Linked DNA regions of Homo sapiens: region 1 is linked to region 2. The links come from fine-mapping of genetic effects on gene expression. Tissue or cell type: atrial appendage. Region 2 holds a variant in brackets; the other region holds the start of a gene. All regions are shown on one strand. Distances are from middle to middle.

Region 1 (10,987 bases), 280 kb before region 2:
CACAGGCTCAACTAAATTAATATTAGAGGGAAAAATATAAAACAGGGAAGGGAGATGGGAGTGCTGGAGCAGGGATGGAAGGGATTGTTAAGGGTCTGAAGTTTAAAATAGAGTGGTCAGGAAGAGGCTCACTAAATAGCTAATTTTTAAACAGAAATTTGAAGCATCAAGAGATGAGGACACACAGGGTAAAATGCATTTCAGGCAGAGGAAACAGGAAGGGCAAAGGCGTGGCACTAACTGAGTTCCGGAGGCAGGGCCAGCAGAGTTGCATAAAGCAGCAAGGGTGGGCAGATCACACAGGGCCTTCCCAATAGAGGAAGCTTAGCTTTTACTCTGAGTGAGGCAGGGAGCCACCTGAGGGGTTGAGGTGACGAATGCCATGATTCGGCCTTCTCAAGTTTTAAAGGGAGCTTCTGGGCTCCACAATTAGAGAGGATGGCTTAAAAAAATTCAAAATAGAGACAAATAACAATTATAATAAGAAAGTAGGAGAATATGAGATAAGAAGAAAGGGTAGAATTGCTTTCCTTCATTCATCAAATATTTATTGAATACACTGTTAGGTTCTGGTTAAGATTAAAAAGTGACTTAGATGTGGATACTGCCCTCACGGAGAATTTACATAAGGAGATAAAACATGAGCAGAAATGACCATAATACAAAGTAGAACACAATGAATAAAGGATAACTTTCTATGTGGGTGACAGGAAGGGAGAATTAAAGAAGTCTTCTTAAAGCAGTTGGCATTTTGCTGGCCACAAAAATATAAGCTTCTTGACAGCATGTGTTCTGTCTTTTGCTGACTGCTAAATTCCTAGCATTTAAAACAGTGCTTTGCACATAGTCTGTGATCAATAGATATGTGTTACCTGATGATAGAATGAATTTGTATATGCAGATATGTAGGGAGAAGGGTGTTCGAGCAAAGGGAACAACATAAACAGAAACACAAAAATAAAGAATATGAGTTTATTTCCTTGGTTCAGATTGACTGAAGCAAATGAGAACAGTGGGAGATGAAATTTTAGAACACAGAATGGGATTAGATCACACAAGACCTTGCTGGCCCTGGGGAAGTATCTTGACTTTTTTTCTATAAGAATTGGGAAGCTCCAAAAGCTCTGAATAGTGATAGGAGCAGAACATTGTACCAGAAAGATTAGTGTAATTGTACTGATAATTGATTGAGGGAGTCAACCAATTGATAGGTGGATGATATTGTACAAGCCTAGACAAAAGGTGATGAGGGCACCCATTAGTTCATCGCCACTTGGTCCCTTCATCATTAGTACTTCTCTGCCAGAGACATCTGTTTATTTGTATTGTAATTATTTTACTTGTCTCTCTCCTTTTCTTCACTAATAATGTAGCACATTTAGCACTGGAGCTAGACACTTCTAATTATCCCCCAATATTCCTTGGCTACAGTAATAAAACATTGTGAGTTTGAGCCGGACACAGAGCTACCAGTTAAAGACTACATGTCCCAGCCTCTCTTGCAACTAGCTGTGGCCATAAGACTAGGTTTTGGCAATGGATTTGAGCAGGAGTGAGGATTGCTGTTTCTGGGACATGCCCTCATAGTGAAGCTGTTTGCTCTTCATTTCTTCCTGCCTCATTCTTGCAGATTGCTCCATACCCATTTTTCTCTCCTCCACCTGAAGTAGGTGTTGGAGATGATGCCCTTTTGGAACTACATAGCTTCCTTCATCCTTTTCCTGAGGAGACAGGTACGTGGGCTTGGGAGTTGCTTCATGGGTCAAGCTTTCATAGGCTTTTGCAAAAAGGGAAAATGTAGGTGTATTTATTACTAGGTTCTGGCCAGTTGGATGAGAATGAAAGTGGGGTGCTGTGTCTGGGTCATGCACATAATGGGAAGCTCTCTGCTTCCACTTTCCTCCTTCTTGAGGGCAGGTATTTGACCCTGGTGGTCTCGAGCCCCCCTTGTCTCAGGTGTCATTTTACAGGATGCAAAGAACAAACATGCTCCTATGCCCCTGCACCTGCCTCATGGGGAATGCTGCCCAACCTCCTGGGATTGCCTACAAAATTGAACTTCTATTATGAGAGAAACAACTTCCATCTTAATTAAGCTATTGTTATTTGGTCAGTGTTACAGAAGCCAAATTAATATTTTAATATATAATTTATAAATATTGATGATTACCACTACGTGTTAAATGAGCACATGATTGGTAAATATAAAACACACTATACATGTAAAGTATAGGTTGAACTATCCCTTATCTGAAATGCTTGGGACCAGAAGTGTTTTGGATTTGTTTTTGTTTTTTGTTCAAATTTGGAATACAGTCATCCCTCAGTCTCCATGAGGAATTGTTTCCAGGACCTCCTGCAGATACCAAAATCTTCAGATGCTCAAGTCCCTGATATAACATGGCGTAGTATTTGTATGTAACCTACACATTTCTACCTATATACTTTAAATCATGTCTATATTACTTATAATATCTAAAACAATATAAATGCTCCATAAATAGTTGCTATGCTCTATTGTTTAGGGAATAATGACTCAAAAAAAAAAGTCTGTACATGTTCAATACAGATAAAATTTTTATCCCAAACATTTCAATCCAAGGTTAGTTGAATCCATGGAGGCAGAATCTGTACAAAGAGCTGACTATATCTGTATTATATACTGATGGTCACGCCAGTTCTGAAAATCTGAAATCCAAAATGCTCAAAAGAGTTTTCTTTGAGTGTAATGTCAACACTCAAAAAGTTTTGTATTTTGGACCACTTCAGGTTTCAGACTTTTGGAATAGGAATACTCAACCTTTAATATTAAAAAAATTATTTATTCCATTCCCCTAAACTTTGAGCATAAAGCATCTATAGTCTTTTGAGAAGGAAAGCTGTAATAGAAAGCTTAGGCTGAACTCAACTTCTCTGTCACCATAACCCTGGGTCGATTTTCTAACTTGCTTCGTGATAAGCTTGTTCAGCACAGAAAGTATCTGACAAGATAAAGACAACAAAATACTGGGTTACTAGTTTCTGGTCATGGGCTCTATCACACCCCAAACAAGACTTTTAAAGGAAAATGAACTATGAAATCTTCAAGTTGTGTATCTCATATCTCTTTATAGGCAAGCACTATAAAAATGTGAATTTGAATATTATTTCATTGCAGGGCTTTTGTGATGCTTGTTTTCTTATAGAATGCAACAAAAATTTCATGGAAAGAAAGTCTAGTTTCTATTGAAGAAAAATATTTGACATTGAGATTTTAAAAATTTTGCCATTTACATTTATCATTATTTTTTCAATAATCTTGCACTCTCATATCCAGATTGTTTAAATAAGCATTTCTGCTTGCACAGCCCATTTGATGAAACATATTTATTATCAAGTTTATGTACTTGTATCACTATCGCACTCAGAGAAATATCAGGAGTCTCTGTATAACTCCTTATGATATATACAGTTCTTCATGTTTTAGGTGGAAGAGCATTGGAATGTTGACTTATCTAACTGGAAAAGTGGTTTGGAGGGTGTTGGCTCTTGGAGCATGAGGTTGCAATTAAGAAAAGCTGGAAATTGGCATACACGTCCTGAATCAAAATACACCTTCAGAAAGAGATGAGGACATTTTCACCTTATAATGCTGAGAAGTCTATACTGCTAAAGATAAAAATGGTGAAATGTAAATATTGGTTATGAAATTGAAAATTTTTATTTCCTGTACCACTGAAGTTATTTTGTATAAACGGTATTGTCCAGCCTTCTTTTATCAAGATTTGAATGTTGTTATTTTGGTTTTCCTCGGAGTACTAAGGGCAGGGACTTTGCTTTGCTGATCCCAAATCCCCAGAACTGTGCTTAGCAAACACTGGGTATTAAAAAAAAAAAAAAGAGAGACAGTTGTTGACTGAATAAATAGATGAATGGATAAATAATGTTTGCATTTAAGAATTACGATTTCCAATGGCAAGAGAGGTATTGCTAGTACAAGATTTTCCTTTAGAACATAAAAAGAGAAGATAATGGATCTCAATTAAGTTGTTTATAAAGAAGCCTGCTTCATAATCAATGTTTTTTTTAAGTCATGTAGGCATACTTATTACATTTGGCAATACAGAAACATCAGATTTTGCAGAACTATCTCTTTAGGTGTAAGATTATATTAAAGAATTAATATGATACAAGAATTATGAATACAGGTTTAGGAAAAAACAGAAAAGAACCCCAACCAGTAAAAAAAAAATTAAAGTATAACATTAAAAAACATCAAAATTGTAAATATTGTGTAGAAGAAAAACTAAATGATTAACCTGAATGGTTATGGTATTGCTGATAAATGCATCATCTTGACTCCTAGGAGAACCAATTTATGTGAAATTCCATGAAAAAGAATTAGTTACAACAAGCAGAATTTTAGTCCATTTCCAAGAATTTTAACTACTGTAAATCACCTGACACACTTCCCAATAATTAGGATATCGTTTTGCATAGCCACATGGGAACCTGGCCTAGAGGTCTATAGGTAATCTGTTTCATTCATGTATTTTAAGTATGTCGTTTAGGAATAAGTTATCAGGTTTGCAACCTATAAGCAAAGGAAATAATGTGACACTGGAAAACAACACTATTCATTTAACATAATGAATTGCCATGTAATAACTCAGATCTTCCCAGGGTGTAAATTACACAAATTTGAAAGATGCATTTATTATTTAATGCCTCATTCCCAGACAGTTGCTTACTCAGTAGCAAAATCTGTCTTAGCATACCAAGTGTAAAGCTATTTAACAAATAGGAAGGTTTAAAAAATATATACTATCATGCAGACAGCTAAAATATTTGTATATATTTTTAATCTTTTTTCTCTAATGATACTTAGAATATTTTATTTTTATTACTACAAATAATAGAGATGAAATATGAATTGTATTAGTAGCAGAGATATATGAGCTAAAGCTTGTATTGTTTAAAGCACATCATCTTAAAAGGCCTGTCAGGAAACAGTGTTCATATTAAGTTGGCTTTCAGTACTCTAAGAAGATGACATCATTTTGTAAGAGACAAGTGTTGTTAGAGCAAATGCTAGGATATTCTAAAATTTCCTAGGTTGAAGTGAAGAAATTTCTCATTATAGATTATTTCATGAGTTTATGTTCCCGGTTGTATATCAGCTCATGTTAAATTTTGCAAGAGTTTATGATTTCTAAGAACTCACCTTCTATAAGGCCCTTTGCTGAGTGGGGCTAGTTAGGAATTAGTAAGTAAAGGGGATCTTTTTTCCTCGTGTAAATAGCTTAAGAGTAATTTTGGGCGGTCCAGAAACCATAAGTTATCAGGAAGGTGCTTATAAATGGGCAGAGTACATCACTTGCCCAAGATTCTAACAACCTAGCCTGCCCCCCACACACTGTGGGGCACCGTTTGCTACTTGCCAAGTAACTGCCTTTTTTGGCAAAGACCACCCAGGACATGGCTCAGAGTCCATCCTAAGGCTGGCCAACCTCTGTAAATCTCGTGTCCCCTGATTCAGAGCGAGTGCATTTAATTCAGGAAGATCACTTACGACTGAGTTTTTCATCATGGCTTTGACTGTGAAACCCTCAGAAACCAGAGAGTGAGGCTGGTGCACCGGGAGCGGCTGTTGTGCCAGCAGCTTGGTCCTCTTCGGCATCTTGTCTGGGCATTTGTTTAAGCTCAGGGTCTCTTTTTCTGCCACCATCTTCCTAGAAAATGTCTTGTTCTCATAAAAAGTGTAGTAAAAGAATCAGTGGGCTTTACGGATGTGAGCAGGAGGTCTGGAAAAAAATATCAAAAGGCGCGATAATGGTAGAAATTCAACCCCTCGTAGTGCCCAGGTTGATCCAGATGTTTGGCAGCTCCTAGGTGAAGGGAGCTGGACCCTAGGGGCGGGGCGGGAAGAGGGCAGGACCTTGGCTAGAGCTGCAACAAGCTTCCAAAGGTAAGCCTCCCGGTTGCTAAGCGACTGGTCAACACGGCGGGCGCATAGCCCCGCCCCCCGGTGACGTAAGATTGCTGGGCCTGAAGCCGGAAAGGGCGGCGGTGGGGGGCTGGGGGCAGGAGGCGTGAGGAGAAACTACGCGTTAGAACTACGACTCCCAGCAGGCCCTGGGCCGCGCCCTCCGCGCGTGCGCATTCCTAGGGCCGGGCGCGGGGGCGGGGAGGCCTGGAGGATTTAACCCAGGAGAGCCGCTGGTGGGAGGCGCGGCTGGCGCCGCTGCGCGCATGGGCCTGTTCCTGGCCCGCAGCCGCCACCTACCCAGTGACCATGATAGGTACGTGGGTACCTGCCAGGTACAGCCTCTCTGCGCCGCCCCACGCCCCGGTATGGCGCCACGCCCCGCCTCGGCCGACCAGGACCCCCGGTGCCAACTGTCAATGACGGGGCCAAAGTGCCCGTGCCGTCCCCGGCCCGCGCCGCCGGGCTCCCCAGCTCAGCGACGCGGGTCCGGGGCCCCAGTGTGTGCGTTCGAAGCCCTCGCCTGCCCGCCCCTGCTCTGAGCGTTCTCATGAAGACCGCCTCGACGGGGACGCCAGGCGGCCCCGCACCCCCGCTCCTCGTTCGCGGTCCCCCGGACCGTGTGGGGTCCCGAAGCCTTCTCCCCGCCGCCGCCCCTCACCTTCGCCCCGCCGCCGCCCCTCACCTTCGCCCCTCACCTCACTGGCCGGTTGTGGTGCGGTTCAGGACCCATCGAGACCCACTCTCTGTGGGGCTCTTTCAGGAAACCGCAGCAAAGCATTAAACTCTAATGGAAGGCACCTGGTGAGGGTGGCTGGCTCCACAGAAACTCCTCCAGATAGATCTAAACTTGCTCCCTCGGATGTTTCCTTTTAAACTTCTCATTGGAGGGCTGAGATGAAAGAAACATTAAGAGTAAATAGTAGCCAAGATTAAATCTATTGCCTTTTGCAAAATAACCTTTCTTTTTTTTTTTTGTAAAAGAACGACCGAGGTGCAAGTTTGTGAACGAAACTTAGTGGCATCAGAGTTGTTCATGAACACTTGATGTGTAAGATGAGCAAAGGTCCTCTCTTCCAGGGTTGTTGAGCCAAAAGTTACTTTAGGGGCTATCCCTGAAAATTAATGGAAATGCACCATATGTTTGAAAAACAGTGCTAGATGGGGTTTCATTATTGTGGAGGTTTCTCCAGGTTATGTATGGAGGGTTTAGTGAGCTTGTTTATTCCTGAGGAGGGTCCTTTACAAAACACTTTTGATTGCAGTAAGTACGTTCGAAGTCAGATGTGGTCTGTCCAGAAGAAAGATGAGAGGTGGATTTATAAAGTATATGATCTTTATGCACTGAAAACACTTCTTACATCTGTTTATTTGTGAAGTTATTGTTAAAATGTAAACATTCTCCCCATCAGTGGGAGAATCAAGCCAGCTAACTGGCATGGTCTTTGTGGTAAAACAAGAATGTTGTCCAACTTTTCTTCCCTTTCTAGCATGGTCTGACTTTTGGTGAATGACTTGAAAGTTAATCAAATTACGAAAAAAATATTTTTTATGAGTCTTCTTGAGCTCTTTTTAGGTGACATTTACGTAAGATTCACTTGCAAGCACAAGTTTGAACTGAATCAGAAAACCAAGTAGAAGAGATTTTCCAATATCTGTGCTGTCAGTCTACAGGAAGAAAATAGCCTATACCTTATTTTGAAGACAGTTAAATACATTTTATTTTAATTTAACTTAATCTAGTGCACAGATAATTTTAAGAGAAACAAATTTATTGTAAAGCTATATAAAGACAAGCACTTAAGATCTAAAGAACATTACTCAGTTATAAGTTATGACCTAATAAGTGATTATATAAATAACTTTATTAGGATGAAATGTGTTTGGACAGTTCTGTTTAGTTTTATCTGGAATTCTTCCAATAAGGAAGAAATATCTTTGGAGTTGATGATTAAACAGTTATCAATTACTGGTAATGACATGGAGAATATAAGGTTGGTTTTTAAAAGTGTTATTTCTCTCACTCCAGCCATGGTTTTACATAGTGCAAATAAGTGTGCAGTACAACATAAATGATTAAATCCATGCCTGCTTTCCCTAGGAAATGTGCCTTACATATAAGATCATGGACAATGTGCAATAAAATATTCAACTAGTTGCATTGCCTAATTCTGAAATTAGACACACGTCTTTTTTTTTTTTTTTTCCTCTTTTTGAGACAGGTTCTGTCTCTGTCACCCAGGCCGGAGTGCAGTGGCACCATCACAGCTCACTGCAGCCTCCAACTCCTGGGCTCAAGTGATCCTCCCATCTCAGCCTCCTGAGTAGCTGTGACTACAGGTGTGTGCCACCATGCCTGCCAATTTTTTGTTATAGTTTTTGTAGAGATGGAGTTTCATAATGTTGCCCAGGCTGGTCTCAAACTCCTGGGCTCAAGCAATCCTCCCGCATTCGCCTCTGAAAGTGCTGGGATTACAGGCATGAACCACCACGCCCAGCCTCATTAGCCACATTTCAGTAAACATCTGAATGGTCAGTTTGGGATTTGGGTGTCGTGAACAGTGCTAAAGGTAGGTGAAAGTGAAAACCATTAAAAGGAAGCCTTGGAGTGATGGGTTTTGTGTTTTTGTGACAAAAATTCAGAGCCAGGAAAGACATTATAGACTTTATCCAGTGATCACTAAAATGTAAATAGTATGTATCTGGGATTTTCTGTTAAAGGTAAGAGTGCTTCTCAAAGCTTGCTCCTTTCAGGCCTATGCTTTCTCTAACTATTACACTCACCTTGTTGCGGGATTCGGGAGTATGAGGGAGACCTCAGGTTGAAGCAGGAGAATCTTTATTGAGTGTACTCAGGCCCAGCTGACTCACATCCAAAAGACTGGGCCCAGAATAAAGACAGTACTTGACTTTTATACACACTTCACAAACGGAGGTGGGCTAGCTTGAAGCAAGCTTACAGTGGCGTGAAAGCAGGGATACAGAGGCAGGACAAAGACAGGATTGCAGATGACCATTGCCAAGCAACCCAGATGTTCGTTTTCTAGGTTTGCCTGGGCACAGGCTTATCCTATAACCTTCTCTGTGGTGCCCAGGCAGCTGTAGTTCAGGCCTACTCAGGCTTTTTATGACCTTCGTTGTACTACTTAGATAAAACAGAATACTTGAAATCACTAGTTACAGAGAACAAGAGTCTATAAACTCATTCTGTAAAACAAAGGAAAATTTGTTTTTCTTCTCCCTGTGTTGAGGGAGTGCTGAGAGAGTCTCCAGAGCATATTAGATAATATTATCAAGACTTTTCCTGGGTCTAGGCTGTGCCTGTTGCTGCTTCTGGAACAAGTTAGCCTAAAACAGGAAAACTTATTTCTCTTTCTTTTTAATTTTATTGTTCTTTAATTTCCCGCCTCAACCTTACTGCGAATAATATTCTGCCACTTTATTTAAATCCTGGCTTAGTTTAAGGAGAAACGTAAAGATGGGTTTCCTGGTAGAATAGGAGTAAACAGGACTGACTGTGACCTCACTGCTAATGACATGTACCTTCCTTTTACTTTCTCAAAACCGAAGATTCCCTTATTGGCATGAGGACTGTTTCAAAAGTACTTACATTTCCCACCTGCATTGTGATTGATGTGTTGAATGCCCTGACCCAGGCAGCTACAGAAACATAATTTAATTGAAGTCGGTTAAAAATTGTGCCTTTGTGGAAAGTGTGGAGAAGGACTTCAAGATGATATAAAGCAGAATAGAAAAGCTTAAAAGAATTCAATTTAGAAAAATGTAATTTTTGGTACCTCTATTAAAAATATATTTTGACTTTTTTAAAAATGAGCAATTCTTTGTGTTTAAAATGGAATGTTAGTGGGGATATTTGTGGTATGTTCTAAATGTTCTGTAGAACTGGATTTAGGTATTTGAGTAACAGCAGATATTAGAGTGCATGGTTATATATACAACAATGTTGTCAGTATTGAAATACACATTCAGTGTCTTAGACTTTTAAGAAGATTTTTGATTGACAAAAACCATTCATTGGAACATAGTCTCTTCTATACCTTGTTTCACTTAGCATCTCTTTGAGAATTTACATATCTGCATGTCCAGATCCACTCCACAGCGATTCCTGCCTAGTCTTTTATAGGATACACTAATTATGAAAATATTTACCAATAAATAAGCACTCATTAGGTTTACAGACAACTGTTGTCAGAAGTGTTTGTGGCCATATCTTTTTACTTGCACATGTAAGCATAGATGTAAAATAAAAATCGTATGACAATTTGAGTTAAAGAGTTTGTAGATTTTACATTTTCCTAGGTATTTCAAAATTTTTCCAAAATAAGTTGCCCAATTTTACAAGCCTATCTAAAGCCTCCACTAATACAACATGGTAGTAAAGAGCTGCCCTGCCCCTCTGGGCTGAAAATTGCCAAAAGACGTCCTTCCTGAGACTGACTCAGCTTTCACTAGCAGAACGCCTCCTGGATCTCCGGTCCCCCACCTCTCTCTCACCCTAGGGGTAGTGCCTTTCAGTGTACAAGCTGCACAACTGTCCTTGGTGGCCCTGCCCTCCCTTTCAGTGTGTATAAGAGTGCCCATTTCCTCCCATGTGCCATCGAAGATTTTTTATTTTTGCCGTCTTGACAGATGAAAAACAGTATCTTTTAACTTTTCAAATTAATTTAGAAGAAAACTTCTCATTCTCATCTTATAGTGCGTTAGTTTTGCAAAAGCAGATCCAGTGATTCCAGCACCTGCTATGTACCCTTAACTGCTCTAGGTGCCAGGGAAACGAGGGAACACAACAGAAAAAGTCCCTTGCCATCAGGAATGTATATTCCGACTTCACCATTTGGCTACACATCTGCATATTTGTTTTCAAGCTTGTGTGCAGTGAATTTTAAAGTCTCAATTTATATTTCTAGTTGAATATACTGTGTACTGCTCTTTGCCCTGCCATTTTGATAAGTTGATGAAAACCAGCTCTATGCCTAAGTACCCCAAAGCTTCTGTTTATAA
Region 2 (10,987 bases):
TCTGGCCCGATGCAGTACCGGGCACCTCTTCCACCTCAAGGAGGGAAGGAGTGGGAAGGCTTGGGCTATGATTCTTGAGCCTTGCGATCCACCTTTTCAAGTGGTGGCAGCATAGTCTTAAGTTTCTCTCTTTTTGTTTTTTCAAAATAGTTTTGCCTTTGAATCTATTTTTTGTGATATTAATAATATTGTCATCCCTGCCTTCTTATGATTACATTTTACTTGGCGTATTTTTTATTCATTTATTTTGAAACCATTTGTGTCTTTATATCTAAAATGCAGCCCTGTAGACAGAGTATAGCTGGACCCACTTCCCTCTGTCCACGTAGTCCCTGCCTTTTAATTGGAGTGTTTACTTCATTAAAATTTAATGTAATTATTGATGTGGTGAGTTCTGGTCACCAGTTTATTGTATTTTTCTATCTACCTCTCTATTTTTCTTCCATTCTTCATTATCTCCTGCCCTTTTTGGAAGGATTATTTCAATATTTTTTGGAATTCCATTATGATTTTTGCTTGCTTTTTGGGTCAATATTTTTATTCATTTTGATTTTTACTATAAGAAATATAATGTCTGTCCTTAACTTCTTAGTTTCTTCATTGTTAATATTGCTCCACTTCATAAAATAAATAAAAGACCCATATTTACCCCGCACCTATTATGCCATACTTGGCATACATATTATATGTTCTAAACTCCCCATGGAATAGAATTTCTGCTTTACCCAGTCATCTGCATTAAATAAATTATGTTGAATAAAGCAAAAAAATTCCTACCTAATTATCTTCTGTATTTAGCACTTATGATGCTTTTACTGTTTCTTGTGGATTTGAATCTCTGTCTTGTACCATTTCACTTCAGCCTGAAGAGTTTATTTGATATTTCTTGTGATATGAGTCTGCTTGTGATAAATTATCTTAATTTTATTTAATCTTAAAATATCTTTATTTTATTCTCATTTTTAAAAGATATTTTCACTGGATATAAACTTCTGCATTGACAAGCATTTTTTGCTTTTTGTTTTCTTCCTGAACTGTAATATTGTGCCGTCACTTCTGGACTCCATTGTTTCTGACCAGAAGTTAACCCTTAATTACATCATTTTAACCCTGTATGTGACAGACAAACTTTTCTTGTTGTTTTCAAAGCTTGTTCCTTGTCTTTGGCTTTCCATAGTTTGACTATGCTATGATTTGCCTTGACACAAGCACGTTCATATTTATCCTGCTTGACATTTGTTGAACATCTTGAATATGTAAATTTATTTATTTCATCACATATTAAAATTTGAGGGCATTATTTTTTGAAAAATTTTTCTGCCCCATTCTTTCATTTTTTCTTTGTGACTCCAACAACATATATATTAGATCATTTGATATTATCTAATATGTCCCTAACATCTATTCATTTAAAAACAATTCTTTATTCTTCACTAATGCTTTCCTCTTTAATCTCCATTTGGGTATTAAATTTATTTAACAGATTTTTATTCCAGGCAATTGTAGTTTTAGTTCTAGAATTTCTATTTGATTCTCTCTCTCTCTCTTTTTTTCTTTTTTTTAAAATAGAGCTAAGGTCTCACTGTATTGCTCAGGTTGATCTCAAACTCCTGGGCTCAAGTGATCTGCCCGTGTGGGCCTCCCAAAAAATTGCTAGGAGTGAGCCACCATGCCCGGCCTGATTCCTTTTTATAATTTCTATTTCTCTGATTATCTGTCATATCTTTCCACTCATTGCAATTTTTTTTTTTTTTTTTTTACTCCTTTAAGGACAGTAATACTACTAGCTCCTTTAAAATTTTGTTTCCTAGTTTCAAAATTAGAGTCATTTCAGGGTTTTGTCTCACTTGATTTTCTTTTCTCCGAGAATGGTTTACTTTCATGGTTCTTTGAAATGTTAGATACTTTTAAAATTATATCGCAGACATTATAAACGTAATTACTGGAGACACTGAATTCTGTAATTTTTTCTCCAGTGACCCTTGGTTCTTTGTTTGTTTGTTTTGGAAGACATTTATTTTGGTTGATCTTGAAAAGAAAATCTGTTCTTTGTGTGCAAGTCTGATCTCCATCTAGATCTTTTTCTTTAATATATATGAACATTTATTTTACAACAGTTTTAGTTTTACAGAAAAAGATGCAAAAATAGTACAGGGAGTTCCCATGTACCCCACACCCAGTTTCCCTATTTTAAACTTCTTACATTGTTATACTACATCTGTTATCATTAATGAAAGAATGCTGATACATTCTTATTAACTAAAATTCAAACTGTATTTGGATATTCTTAGTTTTACCGAATGTCTCTTTTCTTTTCCAGGATTCCATCCAGGCTACCACATTGCATTTACTCATCTCCTTAGGCCCTTAGACTCTAACAGTTTCTAAAGACTGTTCTTGTTTTGGATGACCTTGAAAGGTTTGCGCAGTGCTGGCCAGGTGTTTTTTACAACGTCCCTCAATTGCGTTTTGTGCGATGTTTTCGTGAAGATTAGACTGGGCTTATGTGTTTTTGAGAGAAAGCCCACAGAGATAAATTGCCCATTGCATCACACTGTGTCAAGGGTAAACATGATCAAGATGACTTACCACTGTTGATGTTGACCTTGATCACCTGGCTGCGGTAGCGCCTGTCAGGTTTCTCCACTGTGAGGTTGTTTTTGTTCCCCTTTCCATGCTGTATTCTTCAGGAGGAAGACAATCACAGGGGTGTTACAATCATAGGGGCGTTTACATTCACAGGGGGATTACAATCACAGGGGCGTTTACATTCACAGGGGGATTACAATCACAGGGGCGTTTACATTCACGGGCGTTCATATTCACAGGGGTGTTACACTCAAAGGGGCATTTACAGTCATAGGGGCGTTTACATTCACAGGGGATTTACTGTCACAGGGGCATTATACTTCACCTCCTTGAGCACATCCTTCCTTTAGCTGAGCAACTTTGAGTCTGATAACGCACCTTCATCATTCAGGGGTTAGCCAGAGACGTGGATAGATAGAAATTTGGGTTTCTCTTTCTGACTCATTTTCTTCTGTGTCTCCTCGGAGGCAGGTGTCCCAGTCTTGGTGTTTTGCTTCTTCAGCCAGAAAAACTGTGGCTTTGCAACCAAAGTGCCTGCTGGCCCACATGCCATGTGCACGGACTGCACCTGGCTTCAAGCCTAAAGCTGTGAGAATGGGCACTCCCTTTACGTAACTGTACTTCTCCTGATGTGGACCCCCTAACTAGAAATCTTCATTTTTTTTGTTCACTCTTCTATGGCTTTTCAAGAATCTGCTTTCTTTAGTGAAGTCCCAATTTTATAGTAGTTTTTTTGCAGGAGGGTTGATCCGATAGCATTTAATAATTCATTATAAAAGGCAAAAATCCTGGCCTCTATGTATAAGTGGGGAGATGAAATGAGGCTTCCTGTCACAAAGATCTTCAAAGACAGAAATAAAGAATTATGAAACAAGCTACTAGAGGATGGTATCATACAGCATATACTCAAGTGCTAAATGAGTATGCAGGTAATAGTTATAAAAATAAAAATAAATAATAAAATATAAAACATAAAAATAGCAATTAAAAAATAAAAAACGAGCTATAAAAATGCTTGTAGCTAGTAATAATGCAGATCCTTATAACAACCCAATGAAGATGAAATTGCACATGCAAGGTCACTTAACATTGAGCTATGAGTCCAAAGATGCAGTTCTAGAGATTTGTGTTCCACCACAAATTATTGGGTAGGGAAATAGATTGCTGTAGATGAGATTAGGTTAGAAATGAAGGACTACCGTTAACAAAATTTATTGATGGATCAAAGAGGGTAGGAATAAGGCAAAGCACTAAGACAGGTGTAGGAAGAGAATGTTTATTTTATTTATCTACTGGACATCCGTGTAGATATCAAATGCTAGTAGATGCAATTATCTGAAGTTCCAGTGAGGGCCAGGTGTGGTGGCTCATGCCTGTAATACCAGCACTTAGGGAGGCTGAGGCGAATTGATCACCTGAGGTCAGGAGTTCGAGACCAGCCTGGCCAACATGAGGAAACCCCTTCTCTACTAAAAATACAAAAATTGCTGGGTGTGGTGGTGGGCATCTGTAATCGCAGGTACTCGGGAGGCTGAGGCAGGAGAATTGCTTGAACCTGCGAGGCGGAGGTTGCAGTGAGCTGAGATCGTGCCACTGCACTCTATAGTGGGAGACAGAGTGAGATGAGAGAGAGAGAGAGAGAGGAAGGGAGAGAGAGAGAGAGGAAAAGAAAGAAATAAAGGAGGGAGGGAGGAAGGGAAGGAGGGAGGGAGGGAGGAAGAGAAAGAAAGAGAAAGAGAAAGAAAGGTCCAGGGAGATGGCAAGTCTGGAAATAAGGATTTGGGAGTTGATGACATATCCATTGCATTACAGCCACGGGATTAGAGGAGGTCACCTGGGAGAATACACAGATTCAGACTCCTGGGATGCTCCAAAATCTGCAGGGCCAATAAAGGGAGAGAATCCAGAAGAGGAAGCTACAAAAGTATGTCCTCTTTTGTAGGGGAAACCAGAAGGGTTTCTCTGGCGGGTGCCAAGAGAAGAAAGGATGATGAGAACAGAAGCCAACTATATTGAATGTCCCTGGAAGGTCAACCTGATAAGAACTGAAATGTGATGACAGGATTGAAGTGTAGAGCTCATTGCTTTACCAAGAGCA[G/C]TCTTCAAGTGTTGGCTCACGGAAGAGTATAAAATAAAGAAATGGAGACCAGGGTGATAAGAAATTCTCAATGAAAATTTCTATATAGAAAAATGGGGTAGTAATCGCAGGAGGGTGTGAGGACAGGTTGGTTGGTTTGCTAAAGTTAGGGAATACTAGATTTAGTGATAGTTCTCAAAGGTGCAGAAGAAACTTCCCAGGCAAGGGACATTTGGAAACATGTGGAGTTACTTTTGTGTTGCCGCAATTAACCGGGGCGTGCCTCTGATACTTACTGGGCTGCAGGTGGAGCCGAACATCCCACGGAGCTTAGGAAACCCTCTCATGAGGAAGAATTGCCTGCCTTCAGTGCACTGAGTCCATTTTTGTGCTCATGTTAATGGTCTATCTTGGGCTGTGATTTTCTTTGGGTCTCTCAGCAAAACTGTCTGAGGCATCACATGATGTTATTTGCCATCTAAAAGGACTTCACCGAACCTTTGACAGTTCTGGATATGACTTTGATTAGTCCACCTTATGTCACCTGTATTCTGCAGAATCAATCACTGGAACAAGGGGAGTGCCAGGCACAGATTGGCTTGCATCATCCCTGAACCAATCATTTGACCAATGACAAGGAGGATGGGGCTGTGCTGATGAATGACATTGCTCTTCTCAGTGCAGGAGGCGGAATGGCTGCTTGAGGAGCAGCCAGAATCATTTAAGAATCATTAATTATTGATATTGACTACTATATTTATGAAGTTTATACCCTGGTCAGACTTGGTAAATAAAATTGTCTTAAAAGAAATATAAGGGCCCATCCACCAATAACCCTTTCCCCTCTTCCCACCCATTCACTTCCTTACTCTCTGGGACTTCTCAACCCTGGTTAGGGATATCATAAAAAAGGAATCTGGATATATCTCATTATGTTTTTTGTTATCAGTGCATTATGATGTTGATTGATAATACACATGATTGATAATGTTTACTGGTATGTTGTTTGTTTCTGATACTATATTATACGTCATCAAAACAATTATTAAAACAATGCATTTCCAAGCTTTTCATATGTAATTAAACCTTAGAAAGTAGAGGTGAGCCATATTCTCTATCATATCTCTTGGTCTCTGGAAGTTTTCTGTCCACCAAGAGGAGCAGAATCCAGAAAAATTGGCTACTTTATTTAGTATTTACCCACATCCTATCTAATCTCCCTTAGTTACCATGCAAGCAAAGGACACTGCTTTCATTAGCTCTACCTCCTCTAGGTGCCTAGAATAGGGAACTATTTTTGGAGCACACACTTGCCCAGCACTAGGAGGATAGGCCCTGTACTAGTCTCTTTCTGAGATTTTCTAATACATCCATAATCTCAATAAATCTTGTGTAACAGACATTGGTGTTGCATCCCTTATACCGATTTATTAGATCAGGAAGCTAACAGTCAAGGTGGCCAGGTAACTTGTCATAAAATTAGCAAGCGTTACAACCAGCATTCAAATTTCTCTTTATGTAGCTCTAAAGACGTTCTGCCTTCTGTGACTTTAAAGAGGTAGTAGGTGGGGAGAACTGGGTACTTCCTTCCACTCCTGTTTTGGAAATCATGGCTGGAGTTCAGGGGCTGGTACAGATGGGACATGACATGTTTCCCACATATGTCAGAAAAAGGTTGAGACCCACTCAAATCACATTACTGCCATTCAGCACTAGCCATTTTTCACATAATGGCACTTGATTATGAACTCAGTGAGTTTCTTAAGATGTTTTTTCTTATTCATGCGAATGTTTTAGTTGGTCAAATATTATGTATTTGGTTTATCTTTCCATTTTAAATTTATATTGTATGTTAGATTTACTGTTAAAAATATTCATATCCGTAGTATTTATGATTTATCTAAATACTGTAACTTTAAATCTGTAACTTTTCTATTATAGAAAAAACTTGTATATACTTAGGATTTCAGTAGTTGGACAGAGGTATCTTTAATATTTTTTGCAGTTTCCCTTTACAAAAAAACTCTCATCCTTGCAGTAGGAGTTCCATGATTTGAACCCCTGGAGCAAAATCATAAACTTAGGATCTCCTGGAATTTTTATCTGGTTTTATAGCAGCTTTGGCACAAATTCCAGCCACTTCTTCCCACATTCCTTCCTATGGTGTTTTACTTTAAATCTATTCTCACTAGTAGAAAATGAAATTTAGAACTGGGGTCATATCTTTTGTCCCTATAGCCCCTAACTTGTCATGTGTCTTTTCTGATGAATTGGTTGTCTTATGGTCTCTGATCTGAGGATGCTGTGAAGATACCTCAGGGCTTCCAATACATTTTTATTTCTTCCCCTCTATTTTCAAAGGCGTCAAATGAAATTGACTTAAAAGTGTATCAAAAGCACCTTTTCCTCCGTAATTAGTATTTTTCATGAATTTTCTTTATTTGGAGCACTTTGTCACTGGTCGTCCTTCCTTTTTCTAAACACTTTCCGTGCTGGTCAGAGATGTCAGGCCTTTGTTCTTGTGGTGCCATCTGGACCACCTGCCCTCACTGGAGTGTCACGTCTGTTTTGGGGCCCATGTTGTTCATGGTTATTGTTCACGGTCCTTTGCTCTTAGCTCCTCACTGGAGCTTTTATTTATTTGTACTGCACACCCATATAGGGAATATCTGATTTATGTCATAAAGCCTTTTTATTGTTATCTTTTTAATCATGAGGGATAGAAATGTGGACTTTTTTTTTTTTTTTTTTTTTTTTTTTTTTTTTTTTTTAGACAAGGTCTCTGTCACCCAGGGTGACTGAGTGCAATGGCACAACCATAGCTCACTGAAACCTCTAATTCCTGGGCTTACACAGTCATCCCACCTCAGCCTCCAGAGTAGCTGGGACTGCAAGTGCACGCCACCACGCCCTGCTGATTGTTTAAAAAAATTTTTTGTAGAGATGGGGTCTCACTTTGTTGCCCAGGCTGGTCTTGAACTTCTGGGCTCAAGTCATCCTTGCCCCTTGGCCTCCCAAAGTGTTAGGATTACAGGCTTGAGCCATTGTGCCTGGCCTGGACTTTTCTTCTGAGATGGTTTCAGGAAGCCTATTTTAGTAGAAATGGAATGAGCTTTAGAGTTAGATTGAAATAAATTTGAAACCCAGTTCCATTAGAAAGTAATTAATGTCCTTAGAAAAGTGGGTCCCATTCCCTGTGCCTTCGTTTATTATTCTGTAAAATAAGGATAATAATAGGGACCTGACCAGATCACTGGGAGGCTTAGAAAAACCATATGAGAGCACAATGTCTGGCACATAGTAAGTGCCTGATTATTATTGGCATTGTAATGATTATTATAATTATGATGAGGTGGGTCATCTCACATTGGTATTGAGAAATAATTAGCTATAGTACTACATTTAAAGGAAACACAGCAGTAAATAAACAATAACACTTGCCCTTGAGGAGTTTGTTATCTTTTAAAGAAGGCAAAATGTATATCAAAAACAGCTAAATGTCCATTATTTTTAAATGTTACAAGACGATAGTTTTAAATACTATAAATATTATTTAATGAACCGAATAATATGGTCTGTGGTTTATTTATGTTTTCAAGATAAGGGAACTGAGACCTAAAGAGGGAGGTTAATAGATTGACCCCTAGCATCCTAAGCCAATTAAAGGAGTCTGTGGGGATTTTTCATAGGTCTTCCTAATGCTTCAGGATGTTCTTTTAACCCGTGTGCTATCCTGCTTCCATGAGGAATGTGGTGAATATTAAAAGACATATATAGTAAATGCCACTGGTGCCCTGAATAAGGAAGATCAGGCTTTTGCAGTAGCTGATAGCCAGAAGCTTCTTGGGGGAGGTCACATTTGAAGTGGGCCATGGAGGTAGGCAGGATTTCAATAGGAAGAGGAGAAGGAGGGAGGTCATGAATAAAAGCAAGAAGTTGTGTGCAGCAGTTTTTTGTGATTTTTTTTTTTCTGGGAGCATTTAGTTTAAAAGAGTACACATGGAGATTAATGAAGAAAATGCTGGAATGTAGGTTTGTGCTAGATGAAAGGGATCTTGGAGTCTTTCCTCACCAGCCGACAGTGTGAGACTTAAAGGATTTGAGTGGTGTGACATAGCTCTGTATTAATAAGGCTCATTTTGCAGAACTATGTAGGGCCTTTTGGAGGTGATGGCGTGGATCAAGACTCCAGTTGGGGGCTATTATGAGACTCTAGAAAAGATGTGATGAGAGCGTGACTTCAAGCAGTGAGAGAAAGAATGGAAAGTAAAGGGCAGTGAGAGACGCTGAAGAGGTGGGACAGCAGGTGCAGTGAGAAGACGGCATGCAGACAGACAGACTAGAGGATGCAGCCTGGGTCTCACGGGGAACAGTGGCTTCAATAAGACAAATGGTGTCACTAGTGTCTCCACCCCCTCCCTGCCAAAAAGAGGGCAAATAATTGTCTTCATAGACCCAGTGGAGCATTTTGGCCAGGACCACCCAAGTCTAGGGCTCTGAGCCATAGCCCCGAGTGGGTCTTCACTCTGGTCTATAGAGCAGCTTAGATTTTTTTCCATTGCTATACCTTGAGTGCTAACACATCGCCTCCTATTTTTATTAAGAGGGTCACTGTGGAGGGAGTGTGAGTGTGTACATGCTGTCAGAGCTGAGTCTTTTCAATAAACTCATGGGACTCTTTCAATTCCAATCAAGCAAGTGTCCTGCTCAAGTCTCTCTGTTTCCCAGGATGGATGTCAAAGGGAGAATGCAATTTTGGTTTGCAGGTCACTGACGAATATATGAAAGGGAAATCTCGTGGGTAACTAACTCTGTTTTTCCCAAATATTGCTCTATAGCATTAAGTTTTTTGTTGTAAGTGAAAGAAAATATATACCATTCACTGAAGGGCTGCGAGGGGTAAATCGGTTGAGAAATGTTGCTATCACCATTTAAGGGCTTCGAGTGATGCTCACTTTCTCTTCTCCCTTCCAATTTCCTTGGTCAGTGTTTGTCAGGTTCAACTCCAGCCATGGTTTCCCAGTGGAGGTCGATTCTGACACCAGCATCTTCCAGCTCAAGGAGGTGGTTGCTAAGCGACAGGGGGTTCCGGCTGACCAGTTGCGTGTGATTTTCGCAGGGAAGGAGCTGAGGAATGACTGGACTGTGCAGGTGAGTCTCCCTTGGCGGCCGTTCTTGGGATGCCGCCAGCTCCATTGCTCATGCCGCCTGCGCTGCCAATCTGACATTCATGCCTGAGATCTAATAGAATAAATAGTGCCTGGGGATTCCTTGAACTTTACTCCACACTGCTTCATTAATTCTGACCTTCTTAATTATGCATTAAAACAGCAAGCAGGAAAGATTGGAAGAACAACTGCGAGTGAGAAAGAGAGAGAGAAAGAACACACGAGCTAGGCTTAGTGAATAAATGTCTACTGACTACAGGAGCAGCAAGGCACAATTTCTGTGTCTGTTCAATTTCTACCTTACTTATTCCATTTGAATCTTAACGAAGAAGGATTCGAATAAATTGTTCCCAATCAGGCTGCTCAGTCCCTGCACTGTGAGGAATTTGTAACCCAATTGTGACCCCTGGAGGTTAGTGAGGGCTGCTGCTATGCTGCGCTAGAGGAGGTGTGGGCTCCGGGGCCCATTGGCAACTAGCTTTGGGCACTCCTTGGCCAGGACCAGAATCGCACAGTTCTGCAGCTGATGGGGAAGGAAGCCTGGAGCACAACAACAGTATACCTTTGCATGAATTTCTCCAAGGTTCAGTAACATTGTCCCTGGAAATAGGCCCCTGCAACGTAATAAGTGTGAACGATGCTCTCTTCTCTCCTGGCCCCAGCAGAGCTTCTGGCAGCCCACTGCTCCTAGCCCCATGAAAGCCCTACACACATGTCATTCGGATTGGTGATTTTTGTAGGAATTAGGGGGACTGGTGAGGTGACTGATAATACCACCATCACCTAGAACTAGAGACCCGTCCTTTGTTGGGGAAACTCGCAAATACAACTCAACATTTGTTGACGCTATTCTTTGTGAATGCAAGAAAGACGAAACGCTTTCTGGGAATGGTCCCTGTGACTGTGAAGGACCCTGCAGATGTATGTTCCCCTTTTCTTAACCAGCATCAATTAATTGCACTCAGGTTTACAGCTGTGTGGGTATCACTGCTCCGCGCAGGGGGGCTCCTGGGTCAGAGTACACAAAGTCCGTCCTTGTATCTGCATCCTTTCCCTGTCTCTTGTGGGTAACGATATTTATGGCTTTGTAAAATGCTCTCAGAATTTGGGTATACAAAGAAGCTACAGAAATGCAAATTGTTCCTGTCATTCT

Evidence for each region. PIP is the estimated chance that this variant, and not a neighbour inherited with it, causes the effect.
Region 1: it holds the start of PACRG, and the variant in region 2 is fine-mapped to the expression of PACRG in atrial appendage (GTEx, PIP above 0.99). The same link has a PIP of 0.9 or more in left ventricle.

What each region holds. Positions count from the first base shown.
Region 1 is chr6:162,722,956-162,733,942 of GRCh38, reverse strand. PACRG (parkin coregulated) reads right to left here and starts at 5,969. Exons shown (of 5, transcript NM_001080379.2): 1 at 5,552-5,969. The coding sequence starts at 5,707. It overlaps PRKN (parkin RBR E3 ubiquitin protein ligase), which reads left to right and starts at 6,177. Exons shown (of 12, transcript NM_004562.3): 1 at 6,177-6,281. The coding sequence starts at 6,275. RefSeq lists silencers at 6,349-6,570, 6,060-6,599.
Region 2 is chr6:162,442,140-162,453,126 of GRCh38, reverse strand. PRKN (parkin RBR E3 ubiquitin protein ligase) reads left to right here. Exons shown (of 12, transcript NM_004562.3): 2 at 9,654-9,817. Among named protein-coding and RNA genes, the nearest start is that of LNCR-SMAL, 210 kb to the right of the region's middle. The variant G/C (reference allele first, on the strand shown) is at 4,688.